4 separate regions of the Homo sapiens genome follow, and all the other regions are linked to region 1. Evidence: fine-mapped expression QTL. A gene starts in region 1. Each other region holds a variant in brackets. All regions are shown on one strand. Distances are between the middles of the regions.

What was found. PIP is the estimated chance that this variant, and not a neighbour inherited with it, causes the effect. A credible set is the group of variants that fine-mapping cannot tell apart.
Region 2: its variant is the best candidate, but not a certain one, in a credible set for the expression of PKD2 in whole blood (INTERVAL, PIP 0.66).
Region 3: its variant is the best candidate, but not a certain one, in a credible set for the expression of PKD2 in amygdala (GTEx, PIP 0.79).
Region 4: its variant is the best candidate, but not a certain one, in a credible set for the expression of PKD2 in whole blood (TOPMed, PIP 0.67).

What each region holds. Positions count from the first base shown.
Region 1 is chr4:88,005,049-88,010,200 of GRCh38, forward strand. PKD2 (polycystin 2, transient receptor potential cation channel) reads left to right here and starts at 2,587. Exons shown (of 15, transcript NM_000297.4): 1 at 2,587-3,280. The coding sequence starts at 2,686. RefSeq lists silencers at 2,350-3,279, 3,330-3,469.
Region 2 is chr4:87,852,265-87,857,416 of GRCh38, forward strand. No RefSeq gene overlaps it. Among named protein-coding and RNA genes, the nearest start is that of MEPE, 22 kb to the left of the region's middle. The variant G/A (reference allele first, on the strand shown) is at 1,929.
Region 3 is chr4:87,963,133-87,968,284 of GRCh38, forward strand. The region is part of intron 1 of LOC124900730 (a long non-coding RNA gene); the gene reads right to left. Among named protein-coding and RNA genes, the nearest start is that of SPP1, 10 kb to the right of the region's middle. The variant G/C (reference allele first, on the strand shown) is at 2,556.
Region 4 is chr4:88,235,075-88,240,226 of GRCh38, forward strand. No RefSeq gene overlaps it. Among named protein-coding and RNA genes, the nearest start is that of PPM1K, 47 kb to the right of the region's middle. The variant C/T (reference allele first, on the strand shown) is at 3,024.

The DNA.
Region 1 (5,152 bases):
GATGATTGTCTCACTAGTGCTAACAGTGAAGTATAGAAATGTGGGGGAAATATTTATGAAACCTCTTCCATTTGGAACACATTGGTGCTTCTCAAACTTTGGATGCCTGAGAATCCCCTGTGAAGATTCAGAATTTCAGGACTGGAATCCGGAAGATTTTGAGTCAATAAGGTTGGAATGTGGACCCAGTATCTATATTTTTAGCAAGAGCTGCAAGTGATGCTGGAGATCTTCTGATCACAATTTGAAAACATTGTACTAGGCCTATTCTCCAGAGGACCCTTTGGCTCAGATTCTGCATTCTCTTTCCAGGCCTGGCTCTCCTCTGTTGGAATGTGTCTGTAAGAATCCTTCGACTCTGCAGTGCTGCTGGTGCTATTCAGGACATCTTCAGCTTCAGAAGTTCCTTGGATGACAGGCACCATAACCCTTAACCCACTTGGTAATCTCTCATTTTTGGTCTGTCTCCTCTTGAGGGCCAAGGCTGTATCATACTCCTCTCTACATGCCCAGACCTTAATTCAGGGCACAGGAAATGTCTTCAGAATGAACTGATGAATAGCATGAGCTAGGGCTGTGCTCCAGACCCACCAGTCTTGCCTTTGAGAAGCTCACAGTTAAGAGAAGAACATGAATATCTAAATTAATAAACTGCAGGATCAGGTAATAGGTAGCCATAATTACCTAAATATTAGCAGCATGTTATATGTGCCTAGAGAACAAATGAATAATTCATTAAGGTGGATGGATGGCATGGGATGCCATGCTAGAGGAGTACATTAAGAGCTGTTAAAGCTAAATTGTGTCCCCCCAAAAATTTCTGTGTTGAAGTCCTAACCCCCATTACCTCAGAACATGACCATACTTGGAGACAGGGTCTTTACAGAAGTAATGAAGTGAAAACAAGGTCATGAGGGTAGGCCCTAATCCAATATGATGTATAAGAATAGACAATTAGGACACAGACGCATACAGAGGGAAGAGGGAAGACGGCGTGAGGACACAAAAGCGGGGCCATCTGCAAGCCAAGGAGAGAGGCCTCAGAAGAAACCAACTCTGCCAACACCTCGTGAGAAAATACAATTTTTCTTTTCTTTTTCCTTCCTTCCTTCTTTTTTTCTTTCTTCTCTCTCTCTCTTTCTTTCTTTATGAGACAGAGTCTCACTCTGTCACTTGGAGTGCAGTGGCCCGATCTTGGCTCACTACATCCTCTGCCTCCCGGGCTCAAGCGATCCTCCCACCTCAGCGTCCCTAATAGCTGGGACCAAAGGCACACACCGCAAAGCCTGGCTAATTTTTGTATTTTTTGTAGAGACAAGGTGAGCAAATAAATTTCTGTTAAGCCACCCAGTCTCTGGTACTTTGTTATGGCAGCCCTAACAAACAAATACAGGAGCAGATTATGAGAATTTACTAAACCAAACCACAGAAATTAAATTTTATCCTTTCAGCTGCCAGAAGCCCACAGAGGTGTCTAAGCATCAACGTGACAAATAAGCAGCTTTGGTTCTGCAATATAACCTGGAAATAGTGAGGACACCGACGTGGAGAATAGAGATGGGAGTTGACAGGGATCAATTGTTCTAATGCGGAATAATGCAAGACATAAGATCAAGCCAGCAGGAGTGAGAAACAGAGATCATATCAGGGTGATATCTGTGGGGCAAAAGTAACAAGAAGATAAGGTGTAGGCGGTGGAGGGTAAACCGCGAGGCTTCCATGAAGAAGAGTGGCCTGGGAAGTGAGGAGGACAGCGAAGCCCCAAACCTCACCTTGGGATACGGGAAGTGAAGCAGGTTCCAGAGAAGGGGACAAGATAATGACTTAGGGTAGGATAAATTTCAGACAATTGCAGAGCATCACATTAGATGTGTTCAGAAGAGTGGAAATAAAGTTCTGTGCCTAGGCCCTCATGCAGGATTCTGTTGCTAGAAGTCAGTGCTGGCCGCAGGGAGACCGGAGATCACAGTGGAGGCACCAGCGATCCGAGAGTCCTATGACGAATCCCTGGGATCCCCACAATGTGTGGAGACAGAAGCCAACCAAAGAGCGAGAAAGCATCTCCAAACCAGCAGAATCAGGGGCAGGAGGCCCGCCAAATGCACAGCAAGTCAGCCTTGGTAGTTTGCAAATGGAAAGATTTCTTTGACCCGCTGGAGACTTCAGCTCAGGCTGGATGTCGCTAATTCACACCATCTCACCAAAAGGTTCTTTCCCTGCCCTTTGGTGAATCGAGGCAGAAGTGGCTGGTGGATAACTGGGACCCAAGAGTTATCTCAGCGTCGGGCAGGCATCGACAGCTCCAGGAGCCCTTTCCCTGCAGGCGGGCTGGCGGGTGAGCGATTCCCTCCCTTCCCAGGCCTTCCCGGGAATGGAACGTGGGCGCCCGCGCCCGGGCTCCGGTTCCACTTGGAACGCGGACTCGGGAGCCGCCGGGCGAGCGCGCAGACCGCGGGGGCGGCTCCCTCGCACCTCCCCGCTCAGCGCGCCGCGGCGGATGGGCGAGGCGGGGCGAGGCCAGAGGGAGGCGGGCCAAAGGGGCGGGCGAGAGGACGCGGGACCGCGGGGAGGTCGGGGGCGGGGAGCAGGCGGCGGCGGGCGCCGGGAAGAAAGGAACATGGCTCCTGAGGCGCACAGCGCCGAGCGCGGCGCCGCGCACCCGCGCGCCGGACGCCAGTGACCGCGATGGTGAACTCCAGTCGCGTGCAGCCTCAGCAGCCCGGGGACGCCAAGCGGCCGCCCGCGCCCCGCGCGCCGGACCCGGGCCGGCTGATGGCTGGCTGCGCGGCCGTGGGCGCCAGCCTCGCCGCCCCGGGCGGCCTCTGCGAGCAGCGGGGCCTGGAGATCGAGATGCAGCGCATCCGGCAGGCGGCCGCGCGGGACCCCCCGGCCGGAGCCGCGGCCTCCCCTTCTCCTCCGCTCTCGTCGTGCTCCCGGCAGGCGTGGAGCCGCGATAACCCCGGCTTCGAGGCCGAGGAGGAGGAGGAGGAGGTGGAAGGGGAAGAAGGCGGAATGGTGGTGGAGATGGACGTAGAGTGGCGCCCGGGCAGCCGGAGGTCGGCCGCCTCCTCGGCCGTGAGCTCCGTGGGCGCGCGGAGCCGGGGGCTTGGGGGCTACCACGGCGCGGGCCACCCGAGCGGGAGGCGGCGCCGGCGAGAGGACCAGGGCCCGCCGTGCCCCAGCCCAGTCGGCGGCGGGGACCCGCTGCATCGCCACCTCCCCCTGGAAGGGCAGCCGCCCCGAGTGGCCTGGGCGGAGAGGCTGGTTCGCGGGCTGCGAGGTAAGAGCGCGCGACCCGCAGCGGCAGATGCACGAACCAGAACGGCCGGCGCCGGCCGGGGCCATCGCCCGCTGCGGCAGCTCCCCGGGCTCCATCTCGCATCCCCTCTGCGTTCCGCCTCCCTTGGAAGCGCATTCCCCACCTCCGCTAGTGCTGCCCTATTTCCGGTACCCAGCGCGGAATTCCACTGCTCTTTTGTTGGTGCATATTTATTGGATACCTCCTTCTTCAGGATATGTCACCATAGTCTTTTTTACTGAAAATTAGTGAAAGCCTAATTAGAGTGAAAGAGTACATCTGGGTTTTGTTTTTTTTTTTCTTGTAGAGGAAAAAATGAACATTACTTGTGTAACTGATGGTAGTTGCAACTGCATATTTGCCAATGTCACAAAATCTAAAGGAAAATGTTATAGTCACCCGTGGTTTCCTTCTTGCCTGGACACTCCATTGTCCCGGGCTGAAAAGGGTAGCAGTACAGTGCATATAATGTCAAGTTGTGGGAGGAGTGTGGCAGATTGTCATTGGTGCATTTTTTTGGTGATGTGTGTGGTTGTTTTGAGGAGTGGGAGCTGTTAAGAACACCACAAATAGAATAAAATAATATCGTGAAGTTATTTGGCCGTTTCTAATTCTAGACATTTTTCTAAAAACAGTTGCAAAGGAAAGATTACATTGTTTTAAAAAAATTTGAAGTATGTTTTTAAATAACTAAATTAATGTTCTTTGAAATTCCACCAAAATGATGAAGTCACCAGATAGCAGCTGATAAATGTGTCTGAGCCCAGTGCGCCCAGCTCTACAAAAGGCAGAAGAGGAATTTTCAAATTTGCCAGTGCCCAGTAAGAGGACATGAATTTTCTAGTACCAGAGGAAATTCTCTTTTTACAAATTTTGTCAGAGGTATCCTTGGGAAAGTATTTCATTTGCTTTTACCCTCCAAATTATTTTAATCTATATTTTTAAGAGTTTCCATTCTCAGTTGAGTTTTTCTTGTTCTTCTCCTTCTGTCAGTTTTGAAAGTCTTGCACAAAAACAATCCAGGTGTTGTTACAGCAGTGTGATTAAAACCAGGTCAGGCCTACACTGAAATCCCAGTTCCACCACTCATTAGCTGTACGACCTTGAGCAAGTTACTTATCCTCTCTGATACCCAATTTTTGGATTTTTTTTTTTTTTAAAGAGATGATCATAACGCTTAGGACTTGACTCTTTGGGAGAATTAAGTGAGTTAAGACATAAAATGTGCAGCATGTATTTGTCATGTTATTAGCGCTTCAGAAATATAAATGTAAACATTTTGGTACTTCGTTTATGGAGATTCTTATACTAGTTAATTTTATTAAAAGCATGATGGGGAACAGAAGATCCTTTTCGGATAACCTGTGTGAGTAAATTAATAAAACACTAACACTTTTTAAGATTCAAAACTGGATTAATTATGTTATTTTACACCATTTAAAATGTGCATTTAAAAAATATTCACTGAAGTGAGAGAGAAGTTCCTTTTAAGTTAATAAATAATGGTAAGTTGCATGATCCTTTTAACTCAGTTTAAGCATTTGATAACACCCCTAACCTTGTTTGAATAAACTCAATAACAGAATATAGAGAAATAAAATATATATTTCATATGAGTATGTATGTAAATTTATTTCTTTTAAAGGAAAATTTCAGGAAACAAAATGAATAAGCTCATAGTCATAAAACCTCTAGCCAAAGTGTGTCAATGGTCTGATTTGTAGGAGAGCAGACTCAGGAATCGGGAATTTTTTTTTTTTTTTTAAGAGTCGGGGTTTCACTCTGTCACTGAGGCTGGAGTGCGGGGAAGCAAACGTAGCTCACTGCGGCCTCAAACTCCTGGGCTCAAGCTGC
Region 2 (5,152 bases), 150 kb before region 1:
CTTTCTCTCTCAAAATAATGTTTTTAGTTTTCTGATTATGAGAGAAATGAAAAACCCATTATATAAAATTACAAAAAAAGAAAATATAAAAAAAAATTACACTTTCATCACATTTTTCCTCCCAGTTCTTTTTCTAACTATATACTGACATATATTCTAAGAAAACATTATATTCTTTTAGTGTTCTTTTCTGCTATCTTAATTTGCTCTTTTATCACATTACCAAATATTTTTAAATCATTTTTAAATTTTATTATATACATTTACCACAGTTTGTTCAGTCTACTATTGAAGAATATTTAGCATTTTCCCAGTTTGTCTCTATTATAAACTCTTGTGTTTTTTCAGCTTTACTGAGGTATGATTGACAAATAAAAATTGTATATGATGCTTAACCATTCTTTTTAAATGGCTGCATAAAATTTGCTGCTTTGATTTACTGTCATTTTTTTAGCCACATCCCTATTGATAGGCATTTAAATGATTTTTAGCTAATCACTATTCAAACAGTGTTACAATAAACATCACTGGTCATGTATCTTTGTGTACAACAGTAGGGTAAATTTTTAGCATTACCAAGTCTATTTTAAATATGAGATACAAAGATGCAACATCAAGTTTCATATACCTGAGCAAGTAGGTTCTTAGAGCAAGTAAGTGAATATTGCACTTTACATAAATTTGCCTCTGTGACACTTCCACCTGCACACAATATGCCCCAGGGCAGTTAATTCCAAACACTGGTGACAGGCTAGGTCCAGTGGAGTCATCTGAAGATCTTTATCAGAAAGCACAACCCTGGAGCTCATTCTCAAAGATTCCGATTCTTTGGTGGGTCCTAGTATTCTGCATTTTAGGAAACTTCCAGGTGACACTAATACACAGCCAGGTTTCAGCAACACTGCCATAAGAACCCGTATTAAAGAGCTTTTAAAATGGAAAACCAGAAAATAGTCACTAGATGGCAACCTCGCTCACTTTTTGAAAAGCATTTTGAAACAAAGCAAAGAGAGTTTTTAACTTTCATTCACAATTAAATTTGGAAATGTCTCCCTAAAGGAAGTTTAAAAAAAAAAAAAAAAAAACATACAATCAGGTGCCTCTCTTTCATAATGCCCGTATCCTATTACTTTTAAACTCCATAAATAAAAACAAGGGCTCTTTTGTTTGAATAATAACAGCCCCCTCTGGAAACTTAATCTAGTTTTTGTTTGCATACATCTCTCCTATAAAACTCTGAATTTCCTGTTTCCTTAGATAATAAAGTGGAATTTGTCTTAAAAAGTCTCTTTTCTTTCTTACTAATGTCTGAATCTCCTTAAAGCCAAGATCAGCTGTGCTTAGTTTTGTGAGGCTAAACCCCCTGACATTAACACGTTGCCATTCTTTTTCTAACTGGCTCTATACAGGTGCAGAGATTCTTGGAAGAAACCTTAGAGATCATCTGGTCCAGTGCTCACCTAAGGCAGGTTCACTGTGTTTCACCCCTAATAGCTGGTCATTTTGCCACTGTTTACATACTTACACTAACAGGGAGTTCATTACCTTACCTTACACTTTTGGTGCTAGGCAGAAAGATGCATTCATTTTCCACATTACATGTTTCCTGTTTTCTACACTTCTCCTCATCAAACTAAACATTTTTCAATGACCTTTCATGTGCTCTTTCACCACACTTACCTCCAGTTGGTTGGGCACAATATTCCACATATTGTTTGAACATCTCAGCAGACCATGTAATAGTCTACCCTTTATTCTGGCCACTCAATCCTGTTAATATAGTCTAGGATTGTGTTAGACTCCTTAACATCTACAAAATGCCTATGTCAGCACTTGGTCCAAAATACAGGCTAAATTCATATTAGTTTCCCTTTCTCCTTATTTAATTTCTAATTATATAAGTACTAACTTCCTTCTGGTTTTTGTTT[G/A]CTCATGTGCTTACTCCATAAAAAACAATATTAGACCAGCTCTGCTCTTTGTACAGTATTATATCATTTATTTTCTGATCCAGGATGCATAATGCTCTATTTCACAATGCTATTTTATTGAAGTTTCTTCAATCTCGATTTTGTGATCCTAAATATTAACTATCACTCCCAGTTCTTAAGATGCAAATACTTCCTGGGTGTTCATTCACCAGTTTGAAGAAATTTTGAACAGGGCAGAGGGCAGGCTAGGACAGTGCCTGCAGCATATTGAAGTTGGCCCCCTTGTAGCCTGATGCTGATCTATTTTTTTTTTTTTTTTTGAGACGGAGTCTCGCTCTGTCGCCCAGGCCGGACTGCGGACTGCAGTGGCGCAATCTCGGCTCACTGCAAGCTCCGCTTCCCGGGTTCACGCCATTCTCCTGCCTCAGCCTCCCGAGTAGCTGGGACTACAGGCGCCCGCCACCGCGCCCGGCTAATTTTTTGTATTTTTAGTAGAGACGGGGTTTCACCTTGTTAGCCAGGATGGTCTCGATCTCCTGACCTCATGATCCACCCGCCTCGGCCTCCCAAAGTGCTGGGATTACAGGCGTGAGCCACCGCGCCCGGCCGATGCTGATCTATTAATCAATACTTTTTGGGTGCAGCTGTTTGGTTAATAATGACTATGGCTCTATTATTAACTGGCCTAGATATGCTCACAAAAGAATTTTGTCAAATGCTTTGCTAATATCAATATGCTGAGCTCTACAGCATTTCCTAAACCTACAAGACCAGCAATAAGATCAAAAATGCAATCAGGCTGGGCACGGTGACTCACACTGTAATCCCAGCACTTTGGGAGGCCAAGATGGGCAGATCATTTGAGTCCAGAAGTTTGAGACCATCCTGAGCAACATGGTGAAACCCATTGTCTACAAAAAATACAAAAATTAGCCGGGCGTGGTGGCATGCTCCTGCGGTCCCAGCTACTTAGGAGGCTGAGGCAGGAGAATCGCTTGAAACTAGGAGGCAGAAGTTGCAGTGAGCCGAGATCGCGCCACTGTACTCCAGCCTGGATGACAGAGCAAGGCTCTGTTTCAAAAAACAAAAGAAAAAGAAAAAAATGAAATCAGAATAGTGACAGTACAGAAAACTGTGATAATGTAGACTTAAAAAAAAACTAAAGGTTTTTTTTTCACCTTGGAAAGGTGAAATAGATTACAACCAAATTACAACTGTAATCCCTGGACACATGTAGAACAGACCCAAGAAAACTCTGAAAGGTGGAGAGAATTAAAAAGATGGGCCAGGGACCTTAAGACTCAAGGAATGACAAGGCATTAAGCTTCCTGGGCTTTTTTTGGTCTCATATATCCCAGACTTGGAGCTCCAGATGCTGGCAGCCCAGAAACACCAAATACAGACAAAAAAAGCCTGCACACTCTAGCCAAAGGAACAGGAAAGGGGCAGTCCAGCAACGCTGAACACTTTTAGACAATAACCACTCTACGCCAGCCAAACACCGCAGAGAAAACTGTGGCCCCAACCCCACCCACACAAGCCAAGGCTGAGTGGGGGAGCCCAGACTTCCAACCTGGAGACGCCACCACGAGGTGCCTCAGCCCCGTCACCACCACCACCACCACCTCCGGGGTGGTATCACAGAAGGCTGAGAAGAGAGCTGGTACTCTCATTCCAGCCAGCCTGTAACAAGCAGTTCCTGTGGTATCAGTGGAGACCATGAGGACAGCCTGGACTCCACTCCCACTCGGCAACTTCCTGCTGAGGGGGGGGCACAGGAGGTCTAGTGGAGAGTCAAGATTTTTACCACTGCTTAGCAGTAACAATGCCACCTACCTATGGTGCCACCAGAGACCATGTGGGGAGCCAGAACTTCCACCCTTTCCTGTAGTAATGAGGAGCCCCCAACACACATGCACACACACACACAGGGATGTCAAGGGAGGCCAAGTGGGAAACCTGGGCGTCTATCTCTACCCTTCTAAAGTGGTGTCATAGGAAGCAAAAATAGAAGTTAAATAATACCCAGAGTCTTATAATATGAAAGTACCCAGGATTCAATTGAAAATCACTCATCATTCAAAGAAACAGGAAGATCTCAAACTGAATGAACAAAGGCAATCAATAGATGCCAACACTGAGTCAGCAGAGATGTTAGAATTTCCTAACAAATTATTGTAAAGCAGTCATCATAGAAATGCTTCAATGAGAAATTTATAAATGCACTTCAAACAAATGAAAAAGTAGAAAGTTTCAGCAAAGAAAGAGAGGATCTAAAGAAGAACCAGATGGAAATGTTAGACATGAAAAAGACAATAATGGAAATTTTGAAAAACTCAGTGGATGGGCTCATTAAAAGGATGGAGGGAACAGAGGAAAAAATCAGTCCACTAGAAGACAGAACAATTTTTCAACCTGAACACAGAAAAAATAGCCTGTAAAAACAAACAAACAAACAAAAACACAAGAGCAGAGCTTCAGGGACCTATGGATCTAACACTTACGTCATTGGAGTTCTAGAAGGAGAGGAAAAAAAGGGCAGGGCTGAAAAAGCACTTGAAGAAATAATGGCTGAAAGCTTTCCAAATTGGCAAAAGACAAAAACCTACAGATTTAAATAGGTGGGTGAACTGCAGACAGGATAAACCAATAAACCTACAGAAACCTACAGCAAGCTAGAAAGATCATGCAGGTTTCTCCTTTCTGAATGAACAGAGTGAGAGAATCTGATGCATCCATTAGCTGAATTCCTCTAGAGTAAGGTCATCTGATCTCTCAAATAATGAAGGATTCTATTTCCTGACCCAATCAGAAGGTTAGCTGAACCTGTCATCAGAATGTTATTACATTTGCCTAAGAGTGAACCTTTCATGCAGGGTGCTTGTTGGAGAGCCTAAGAGGTCACAGTGGAGACTTTGTTGTCCCTGAAGGAACAGGCTCTTGGCTGTTTTTGTCTGTTTGCTAATAAATGCTTGAACATGTGGTAGCATTCGGTCTGAGACTTGTTTTCACTGTTGGATACCACCATGGGAGCAAAGCCATGGGAAAAGAATCCCATAGTTCCCGGCCACTCCTCACTACTGGATGTGCCAATGCTTATCCGAACAACCTGATAATTGTGAATAGCTTAATTGACTTAGGTCATTCACAACAACGTAGTACCAAGCATCTCTATTAAAACAAGCAGGCTAAAGAATTAAAACACATTTTATAGGTTACATATT
Region 3 (5,152 bases), 42 kb before region 1:
CTGCTCTAATCTTCATTCCTTGTGATTTTCTGCACTTTTAGAATTTAAGTTGTCTTAGAGCTGAAATGAAGCCACAAGTCAAGAACCATCCCCTTTTTTCTCAATGCCCTGCCTTCCTACCATCTCTCTTCCAGCTGGGAGAGTCTAGGACTGGAATCATAGTGCTAGATAGGAAATACTATTTTTAATAGAGGTCTCATTTTTATCTTTTAGGATTCTTATCACCCTTTTTTTTCAAAAATGCATTTTGGTTAACTGCATGGATACATACAATGTGTATTTTTAAACCATAACTGAAATTGATATTTTTATTTTGTTGTTTCAAAGCAACTAAAATTAACATTTACATGCCAATGTATAGAACTAAATGTTTTATATTTTGTGCAATATTTACTCCAACACTTAGCTTTCTTTTAGAATTCTTTCTGAATTCTTAGCTTTCTTTTAGTAAATTCCTCAACTGTTTACTCTATACTTTTATGTTTCATAAATTTTTGTTAAAAAAAAAAAACACTCAAATCCTGTGTGTGAAAGAAAGATCTACACACAACCATGTACCCGCTCAAACCTGGTACTATAGGATAAAAGTTTAATTGATCTTATTTCCTAATCCTAATCTGCCTGTCCACCTGGTTAACACTCAGGCTAGAAGATAGGACCACAAAAAATAAGTCAGCTGCCAATTTTATAAAACTGCTGTGGAAGTAAAACATGTTTTAGAAAAATAGATTTACTGTATGTAGGATTTCTATCCTTCTTAAAAAGTAAAATTTTTATACTCATTTATATTCTAGTCAGCGATTACAAAATGTTTGTAATCTTTGTAATCATCATCTTTATAATCTTTGTAATGAAACTCTGTCACCCTTTTCCTTCTAAATTCAGAATAACATCATCTCTACGATAAACCGGGTTCCTAAGAGACCAAGCTTGATGAAACAACATGTATGTTTTCAATCTTACTAGAGGTTAAGACACCACAATTTCACTTGTGTCTGAACCAACTCCTCGTAAACAAAAATAAAGCTGAAACCCCAGTCTGAGATGCTTTGGCACTGTCTAAAAACAGAAAAAGGCCACTTTACTGATCCCAGCCTCCACTTCCTCCCCAACCCAGACAAATGGGTGTACCCACTCTGCTGATATGTCACACATAACCTCTTTTGCTACTTCACTAAGAACTCTGGCTAACCCCTTAGCCCAGCTATGACCCACAGACCAAAAGACCACCAAAGGTTTAGGAATATCAGTGAAATAAATATACAGGAAAGGGTCAAAGCTTCAGCTCCCAACAATAAACAGTTTCTGACATAAGCTACTGTTTCCTTTAATTATGGTCATCTCCATATGAGGATGGTAGAGTGCTTTAAAATTCTTCAGGTTTCCTAGAATTTACCTCCCACACAATATTTGATCTGGTGAGAGGCAACTAAGACTAAAATTAATCTGTGAACACATCCTTACTAGTAAACGGAAGTCATTCAAAACCTTCAGAGAACATGACTTTAAGTTCTCAAATATAACTAGATGGGTTGATTTTAACTTGATCTCTTATTTATTTATTTATTTATTTATTTTCATAGAGACAGGGTTTTTGCCATGTTGACCAGGCTGGTCTTGAACTCCTAAGCACAAGCAATCAAAGTGCTGGGATTACAGACTTGAGGACCAAGCCTGGACAATTTAACTTGATCTCTAACTGCCACTGGCTACTTGTTAGAAGGTCAAAAAGCAAAAGGTATCCAAAAAACAGGTGGCCTAACTAAGAAGTAAAAGCAAATGATGCTGTGTGAACGATTCAGAAGTTGCGAGATGAATTTATCATTTAGTGGAAGGCAGCTGTAGCCTCTTTCTTCTCAGAAATAAGCCAACTTAACAATATTTAATTATGTGGTATAGGCAAGATAAAATTCAGGTTCCCAGATTCCCAACATGGGACACTATCCACTAAAACCTATACCACAGCTGATTCTCTTCTTGCAAAAGTGGGAAAAACAAAAACAGAGGATCAAGAGAAGCCCGCTATCCTAATCACTTATCTACTGATATTGCATACCATCTCCTTGTGGAAAAAATTAGTCACATACTTATTGTATAAAATAATCAACTTCAATTTTAACATATTAGTAACCTCGCATGAACTTATTCTGGCTTTTAGAAATGGGGGAGCAAAAATTAATAGAAAATAGATACATATAAAGTTATAGCACCATAACTTAAATTCCGTTTCATGAGTCTAGTGACCTGGAACACAGACGATAAAATCCAAAAGCTATGAACTGAGCAATATTATGCATATGGCATTGTGTTAATTAAGGTAACATCTGCTATCGTAACAGATGTCAGGCACTAAAGGCAATAGAAACTTATTTCTCATTCATACTGATGGCAACGGTGGGCCATCCGGAGCGGTTGCTGTCATCTTGCCAGCTGCAGCTGGGAGGCGCCAGCGGTGGTGGCAGGAGCGGCTGTGGGAGCAGTAGTGGCGGGTTGCGGGGGAGGGGGTACCCCTGTGCCCTATGTCCAATGTCTGGGAGGCAGCCGACTACGCCACC[G/C]GGACCCTAGCACTGCAGGGCAGGACCTATCCCCAGGCCCAGAGCCTCCGTAGCTCAGCCCCTGGCCCCGCGTTGCTGCTGTCACCCTCTGCTGCTGCAGGGAGGATGTGTGGAAGAGGCAGACAGTCCCCGAAGCCCACAGCCCTGGGGGCCACCACGATGGGGCCAGGCCAAGTCGCCCATGGGCAGGGGAGCAGCTGTCAGGCAGAGAGGGTCCCCAAGGCAGAACTGGGTCCAGGGCAGTGTGACGCTTGCACACAGAGCGTGGTGGCCGAGCCAAGGCGCTGACCTGGGGTGTGCTTCAGGGCCCCATGGCTGGAAGTGGGAGCAGTGCCCGCTTCAGGACCCAGCCAATTTTTGCAGTGACAGCACCCACCCCACCAAGCCAAGTTCCTGCACGTCAGGAGAAGGCTCTGCACAGGGCTGACTGGGGCTGTGTCCAGGGGTTCCGTCCCGCATTGAGGTGATCACCGGGCCTGACACTCTCAACTGCCAGGCCAGGCCCTGATCCACTCCCAAAGGGTCCCCCTCAGACAAGGCTGTGAGCTGGGTGGGCAAAAGCCCCGCCCTCCCAGGAGCAGGACCTGGGAGTCTGTGCAGTCTGCACCCTAGGGGGCCTGTCTGCTCCTGCTGCCTGGTCTCTCCCCACTCCTGGCACCCACTCCAATCTTGGAGTGGGGTTGGGGCCAAGCCGGAGAGCTGTCACAGCCCAGCTGGCTGTGCGCATGCTCCGGACAGCACTGACACACCAGCCCCCTGCCACCTCGGCCTCCTCCAGACTTTGGGCACTGATGAGTGTTGCGGGGAGGGAAGTGGAGGTGAGGATGAGGGCAGCTCAGTGCTGGCTTGCAAGTGCCCCTTTGTGCAAGCAGCCTGGGTGCCATGGACAGCCACAGGAGGCAGACCGGCTCCTGGGCAGAAGGGGGCAGGTCCAGGTGAGGCCCCATTTTCAGGCCAGGGAGAGCCTGAAGGCTGGGGGCCAGGCTGCCAGTCCCACAGACTGGAGCGGAGACTCGTGGTGTCTTTTCCAGGCCTGCCCATGGTTGCCCATGGACCAATTGGTGTGCACTTCTTCACCTCTGAGGTCCATAAATGCCCTGGGCTCAGCAACACCAGGGCAGAGGATGGAGAGATGAAGGGACAGCCAGCAGCAGAGAGGAGATACCCACTCTGCTGAGAACTGAACACTTTTCGGGATGACCTGCCTATATCTCTGATAGGAGCTGAACACTCGTCAGGACACCCTAGCTATGGAGAGGAGCTGCCCACTGTGAGTCTTCCCTGAGGTGTTCTGTTGCTCAATAAAACTCCTCTTCGTCTTCCTCACCCTCCACTTGTCTATGTACCTCATTCTTCCTGGTCACAGGACAAGAACTCAGGACTTGTGGAATGGTGATGCTAAAAGAGCTGTAACACAAACAGAGCTGAAATATGCCCCTTGCTCGTTTTGTTGGTGGGCAAAGAGGAGAGAAGAGCTGCAGCCCTTCAGGGAGCCTAGACCTGGGATCTCCCTGAGCTAGGGCTGTGACTCCCTTTTTGAGACCCTGTGGTCCCTGGTGTCTCTGAGCCTCTGGGCACCACCACATTCCCTAGTATGAGCCAGGACAGCTGCCTGTGGGGCGCTGGTCCAGCCACAGCCTTGAAGAGAGCTGGCGCCCATGTCGGCACCTGGAGCTTCCTGCCCCGCAGCAGCAGCTGGCGTGTCTGACTGCACAGTGGCCAGACTCTATGCTCATTCACACCCCATTGCCACTCCATGCCTGACTCGCGGCATCCCTTGGAGGCATGGGATCCAGGCCAGTAGCATGAGCTGAACACAGCCTGCCAGGCTGAGTGGGCAGAATGAGTCCAGTGGGCCAGAGGCAAAGGCACCACCGGCTGTATGTTTCTGGCCAAAAAAGCAACACTCCAAAGATCCTGTAACAATACGATATCTAATGCTAGGGTTCCAGATCAGCAGACAGCTCAAGTCATGTTCTCCCTGGGCTCTGCTATCCAAAATGCTTCAGTCCTCTTCATCTGGTGAAAGGGTAAGGAAGAAGACTATGGGGGAGGCACGCTTTTTGAAGTTTTTAGGCACTTCCGCCTGGAAGGGAAACACATCACTTTGTTTTACATTCCCTTAGCAAGAACTAGACATATGGCCACATCTAAATGCAAGGGAGGCTGAGAAATGTAGTTTCAGCTGGGCAGCTGCTTCCCAGCAACTACTCTGAAGACAACACATCTTTGGTGTACAGCCAACAGTACCTGCACAATTATTATGGTAGGTGCTACATAGAATTCAAATGTGGTAAGGCATAAGACCAACTATGAAACATGTCTTTCTGTAGAAATATGATACTTGTTAAAATACAATAAGCAATTTGTTCAAAGTTTAGAGAGTCAAGAAAACTAATATTTAAGATCATTGTATCTATTAAGAATGAAGCTAATGATATTAACCCATAATCAGTAGGTGTGTGTTTTGAACTGGTGATTCACAGCTGTTTGAGATTAGCAGAGACATACTGACACTCTCCCACACTGTATGGCTCATGACCATAGCATGGCGTTAGCTGGGTGGCATATGTGAAAAAATTAAGCTTTTGTTCTTC
Region 4 (5,152 bases), 230 kb after region 1:
TACTTTTTAAATTTCATTTTTAGGTTGTTTGCTGTTGGCATATAGACATGCTAATGATTTTTGTATGTTGATTTTGTATCCTGCAACATTACTGAATTTGTTTATCAGTTCTAACAGGTTTTTGCTGGAGTTTTTAGTTTTTCCAAATGTAAGATCATATCATCTGCAAACAAGGATAATTTAACTCCTTCCTTTCCAATATGGATGCCCTTTCTTTCTTTCTCTCATCTGATTGTTCCAGCTAGGACTTCCAGTACTTCATTGAATAACAGTGGTGAAATTGGACATTCTTGTCATGTTTCAGATCTTAGAGGAAAAGCTTTCAGTATTTTTCCCATTCAGTGCGATGCTAGCTCTGGGTCTGTCATATATGGCTTATATTATGTTGAGATATGTTTCTTCTATACCCATTTTTTTGGGGGAGTTTATCATGAAGGAATGTTAAATTTTATCAAATGCTCTTTCAGCATCAATTGAAATGATCTTATGTTTTTTGCCCTTCATTCTGTTGATATGACTTATCACATTAATTGATTTGCATATGTTGAACCATTCTTGCATCCTTGGGATAAATCTCAATTGGTCATGATGAATGATATTTTAATTTGTTTTTGTATTCAATTTGTTAGTATTTTGATGAGGATTTTTGCATCAATATTCATCACTGATAATAGCCTGTCCCTTTTTTAAAAAATATGTCCTTGTCTTTGTGGGGTTTTTTGGTTTTTGGTGTTGTTTTGTTTTGTTTTGAAACGGGGTCTGACTCTGATGCCCAGGCTGGAGTGTGGTTGCATGATCACAGCTCCTTGCAGCCTTGACTTCCCAGGCTCAAGTGATACTCCCACCTCAGCCTCCTGAGTAGCTGGGACTATAGGCATGAACCATCATGCTTGGCTTATTTTTGTATTTTTTGTAAAGTTGGGGTTTCACCATGTTTCCCAGGCTGGTATCATTGTGTTTTTGATATGTTTTGACATGTTTTGGTATCAAGGTAATGCTGGCCTTGTAGAATGAGTTTGGAAATGTTCCCTTTTCCTTTCCTTTTTGGAATAGTTTGAATAGGATAGTATTTGTTTTTCTAGCAAGTATTTGGTAGAATTTAGCAATATAGCCATTGAATCCCAGGGTTTTTCTTGCTGGGAGATTTTTCATTACAGCTTTAATCTCATTACTTGCTATTGGTCTGTTCAGGTTTTAGATTTCTTCATGGTTCATTCTTGGTAGGTTATATGTGTCTAGGAATTTTTTCATTTCTTCTAGCTTTTCCAATTTATTGGCATATAGCTGTTCATAGTAACCATTAATGATCCTTTGAATTTCTGCAGGATTGGCTGAAATGTCTCCTTTTTCATCTCTGATTTTATTTATTTGGGTCTTCTCTCCTATTTTTTTTTCATTTGTGTGGCTAAAGGTTTGTCAATTTTGTTTATATTTTCAAAAAATCGGCATTTTATTTTGATCTTTTGTATTGTTTTCTTCATTTCATTTATTTCTGCTCTGATCTTTATTATTTCTTTTCTTCTACTACTTTTGGGTTTGGTTTGTTCTTGCTTTTCTAGTTCTTTAAGATGAATCCTTAGGTTGTTTATTTGAAGTTTTTCTTCTTTTTTGATGTAGGCACTTACAGCTGTAAACCTTCCTTTTAGTACTGCTTTAGCTGTATCCCATAGGTTTTGGTATGTTGTGTTTCCATTATCATTTGTTTCAAGGAAGTTTTAAATTTTCTTTTAATTTCTTCATTGACTCAGGAGCATATTTTTAAATTTTCTTGTGTTTTGTGTAGTTTCTAAACATTCCTCTTGTTATTGATTTCTAGTTTTATTGCATTGTGGTCAGAGAAGATGGTCCATATTATTTCATTTTTTTGAATGTTTTAAGACTTGTTTTGAGGCCTAACATAATCTATCCTTGAGAAAGATCCATGTGGTGAGGAGAAGAATATGTATTCTGCAGCCACTGGATGAAATGTTATGTAAATATCTATTAGGTTCATTTGGTCTATAGTGGAGATTAAGTCTGATCTTTCTTTGTTGATTTTCTGTCTGGAAGATCTGTTCAATGATGAAAGTGGGGGGTTGAAGTCTCCAGCTCTTATTGTATTGGATTCTATCTCTTTAGTTCTAATATTTGCTTTATATATCTGGGTGCTCTAATGTTGGTGCAGATATATTTCAATTGTTATATACTCTTGCTGAATTGACCCCTATATCATTATATAATGACTTCTTTGTCTCTTCTTAGAGTTTTTGTCTTGAAATCTATTTTGTCTACTCTTTTTTGGTTTCCATTGGCATGGAATATCTTTTTCCATCCCTTTCTTTTCATTCTATGTGTGTCTTTTTAAGTGAAGTGTGTTTCTTGTAAAGCAACAGATCATGAGATCTTGTGTTTTCATCCATTCTGCCACTCCATGTGTTTTTATTAGAGGGTTTAGTTCATTTATATTCAGTGTTATTATTGATGAGTAAGGACTAACTCCCACCATTTTGTCATTTGTTTTCTGGTTGCTTTTTCCTCCTTTCATTCCTGCCTGTCTTCCTTTCAACCAAGATAATTTTCTCTGGTGGTATGATTTAATTTGTTGCTTTTTATTTTTTATGTATCTGTTGTATGTTTTTTGATTTGAAGTTACTGTGCAGCTTGCAAATACTATCTTATAACCCACGATTTTAAGCGGATAACAACACTGCTTGTTTAAACAAACAAGCAAAGAGAATAATAAAGACCAATAGTCTACTCCTTAATTTCATCTGCCAACTTTTAAACTTTTTGTTGTTTCTGTTTATATCTCATTTTACCGTCTATGTCTTGAAAGCTTGTTGTAGTTATTTTTTTATTGGTTCATCTTTTTAGTATTTCTACTTAAGATTGGAGTAGTTAAGTCTACACTTACAGTGTTATAATATTCTGTGTTTTTCTGTGGCGTTACTATAATATTACCAGTAAGTTTTGTACCTTCAGATGATTTCTTCTTGCTCATTACTGTTCTTTTCTTTCTGATTGAAGTACTGTCTTTAGCATTT[C/T]TTGTAGTACAGGTCTAATGTTAATGAAATCCCTCAGCTTTTGTTTGTCTGGAAAAGTATTTCTTTTTCATACTTGAAGGACATTTTTGCCAGATATACTATTCTAGTGTAAGAGTTTTTTTACATAAGCACTTCAAATATGTTATGCCACTCTCTCCTGGCCTGTACAGTTTCCACTGAAAAGTCTGCTGCCAGACTTATTGGCACTTCATTGTATGTTACTTGTTTCTTTTCTCTTGCTGCTTTTTGAATCTTTCCTTTATTTTTGATCTTTGGGAGTTTGATTATTAAATGCCTTGAGATGTTCTTCTTTGGGTTAAATCTGATTGGTGTTATATAATCTTATATTTGGTTATCAATAACTTTCTGTGGGTTTTGGAAGTTCTGTGTTATTCCTTTGGATAAACTTTCTATCCCTATCTCTTTCTCTAGCTCCTTTTTAAGGCCAATAACTCTTAGGTTTGCCCCTTTAAGGCTAATTTCTAGATCTTCTAGGCATACTTTATATTTTTTTATTCTTTTGTTTCCTCTGACTGTATATTTTCAAGTAGCCTGTCTTCAAGCTCACTGATGCTTTCTTCTGTTTTGATTTATTCTGCTGGTGAAAGACTGATGCATTCTTCACCATGTCAATTCCATTTTTCAACTCCAAAATTTCTGCTAGATTCTTTCTAATTATTTCAATTTCTTTGTTAAACTTATCTGACAGAATTCTAAATTCCTTTTCTGTGTTATCTTGAATTTCTTTGCATTCCCCCAAACAGCTATTTTGAATTATCTGTCTGAAAGGTCATATATCTCTGCTTCTCCAGGATTGTTCCCTGTTCCCTTATTTAGTTCATTTGGTGAGGTCATGTTTTCCTGGAAGGTCTTGATGCTTGTGGATGTTCATTGGCGTTTGGGCATTGAAGAGTCAGATATCTATGGTAGTCTCTGCACTCTTTCCAGGCATTTAAAAAGACTTGGGTGTTGAGATCTAAGACATATCTACATTAGGGGGCATCTCAAGCCCAGTAACACTATGGTTCTTCCAGACTCATAGAGGTACTGCCTTGATAATCTTGAATAATATTTGGAATAATTCTCTGGATTACCAGGCAGATTCTTGTTTCTTTCCTTACTTTCTTCCAAGCAAATGGAGTCTGTCTTTCTGTGATGAGCTGTCTGGAGCTGGGGGTGGGGTGACACAAGCACCCCTGTGGCCACCACCACTGGGACTGAGTTGGGACAGACCTGAAGCTGGCACAGCACTGAGTCTCACCCAAGGCCTGTTGTAACCAGTACCTGGCTACTGCCTATGTTCACTCGAGGCCCTAGGGCTCTGCAATCAGCAGGTGGTAAAGCCAGCGAGATTTGTGTCCTTCTCTTCAGGGCAGCAAGTTCCCCTAGACCCTATTCTTTTCCAGAGATGCCATCCATGAACTAGGGACTAGAGTCAAAAATCTTAGTAATCTACCTGGTGCTCTATTCTACCACAGCTGAGCTAGCACACAAGTTATGTGACACAGTTATTTCTACGCTTTCCTCACCTTTCTACAGGCAGAGGAAACTCACCCATGGCCATCACCTCCACAGGCCCAAGGGGAGTGCTGCCGGGCTACCACCGAGGTTCACTAAGGCCCAAGGGCTCTTCAGTCAGCTTATGCTGAAGGCTGCCAGGTCTGGGACTCACTCTTCAGGGAAATGGTCCACCTTCTGGCCCAGGGAAGGCTTAGAAATTCCATCTAAGAGCCAAGGCCTCTAATTAGGGGCCCCAAGAGCCCACTTGTTACTCTACCCCACTGTTGCTGAGCTGGTACCTAAGGTGCAAGATCAAGTCCTCTTTACTTTTCCCTCAGCTTTTTTCAAGCAAAAGGAGTCTCTCACCATAGCCACCATAGCTGGGACTGTGCTGGTTCACATCTAAAGCCAGCATATCTCTGAGTCTTACCCAAGGCCCATGGCAAGTACTGCCTGGGTGCTGCTGCTGATTATTCAGGGCCCAAGGTCTCTTTAATCAGCAGGTGATGATTCCTCCCAGGATAGGTCCTTCCTTTCAAGGCAGTGGATTCCCTTCTGGCCTAAGGTATGTCTAGAAATACTGTCTGGGAACTAGGGCCTGGAATGGGGGCCTAATGACCCTGACTAGT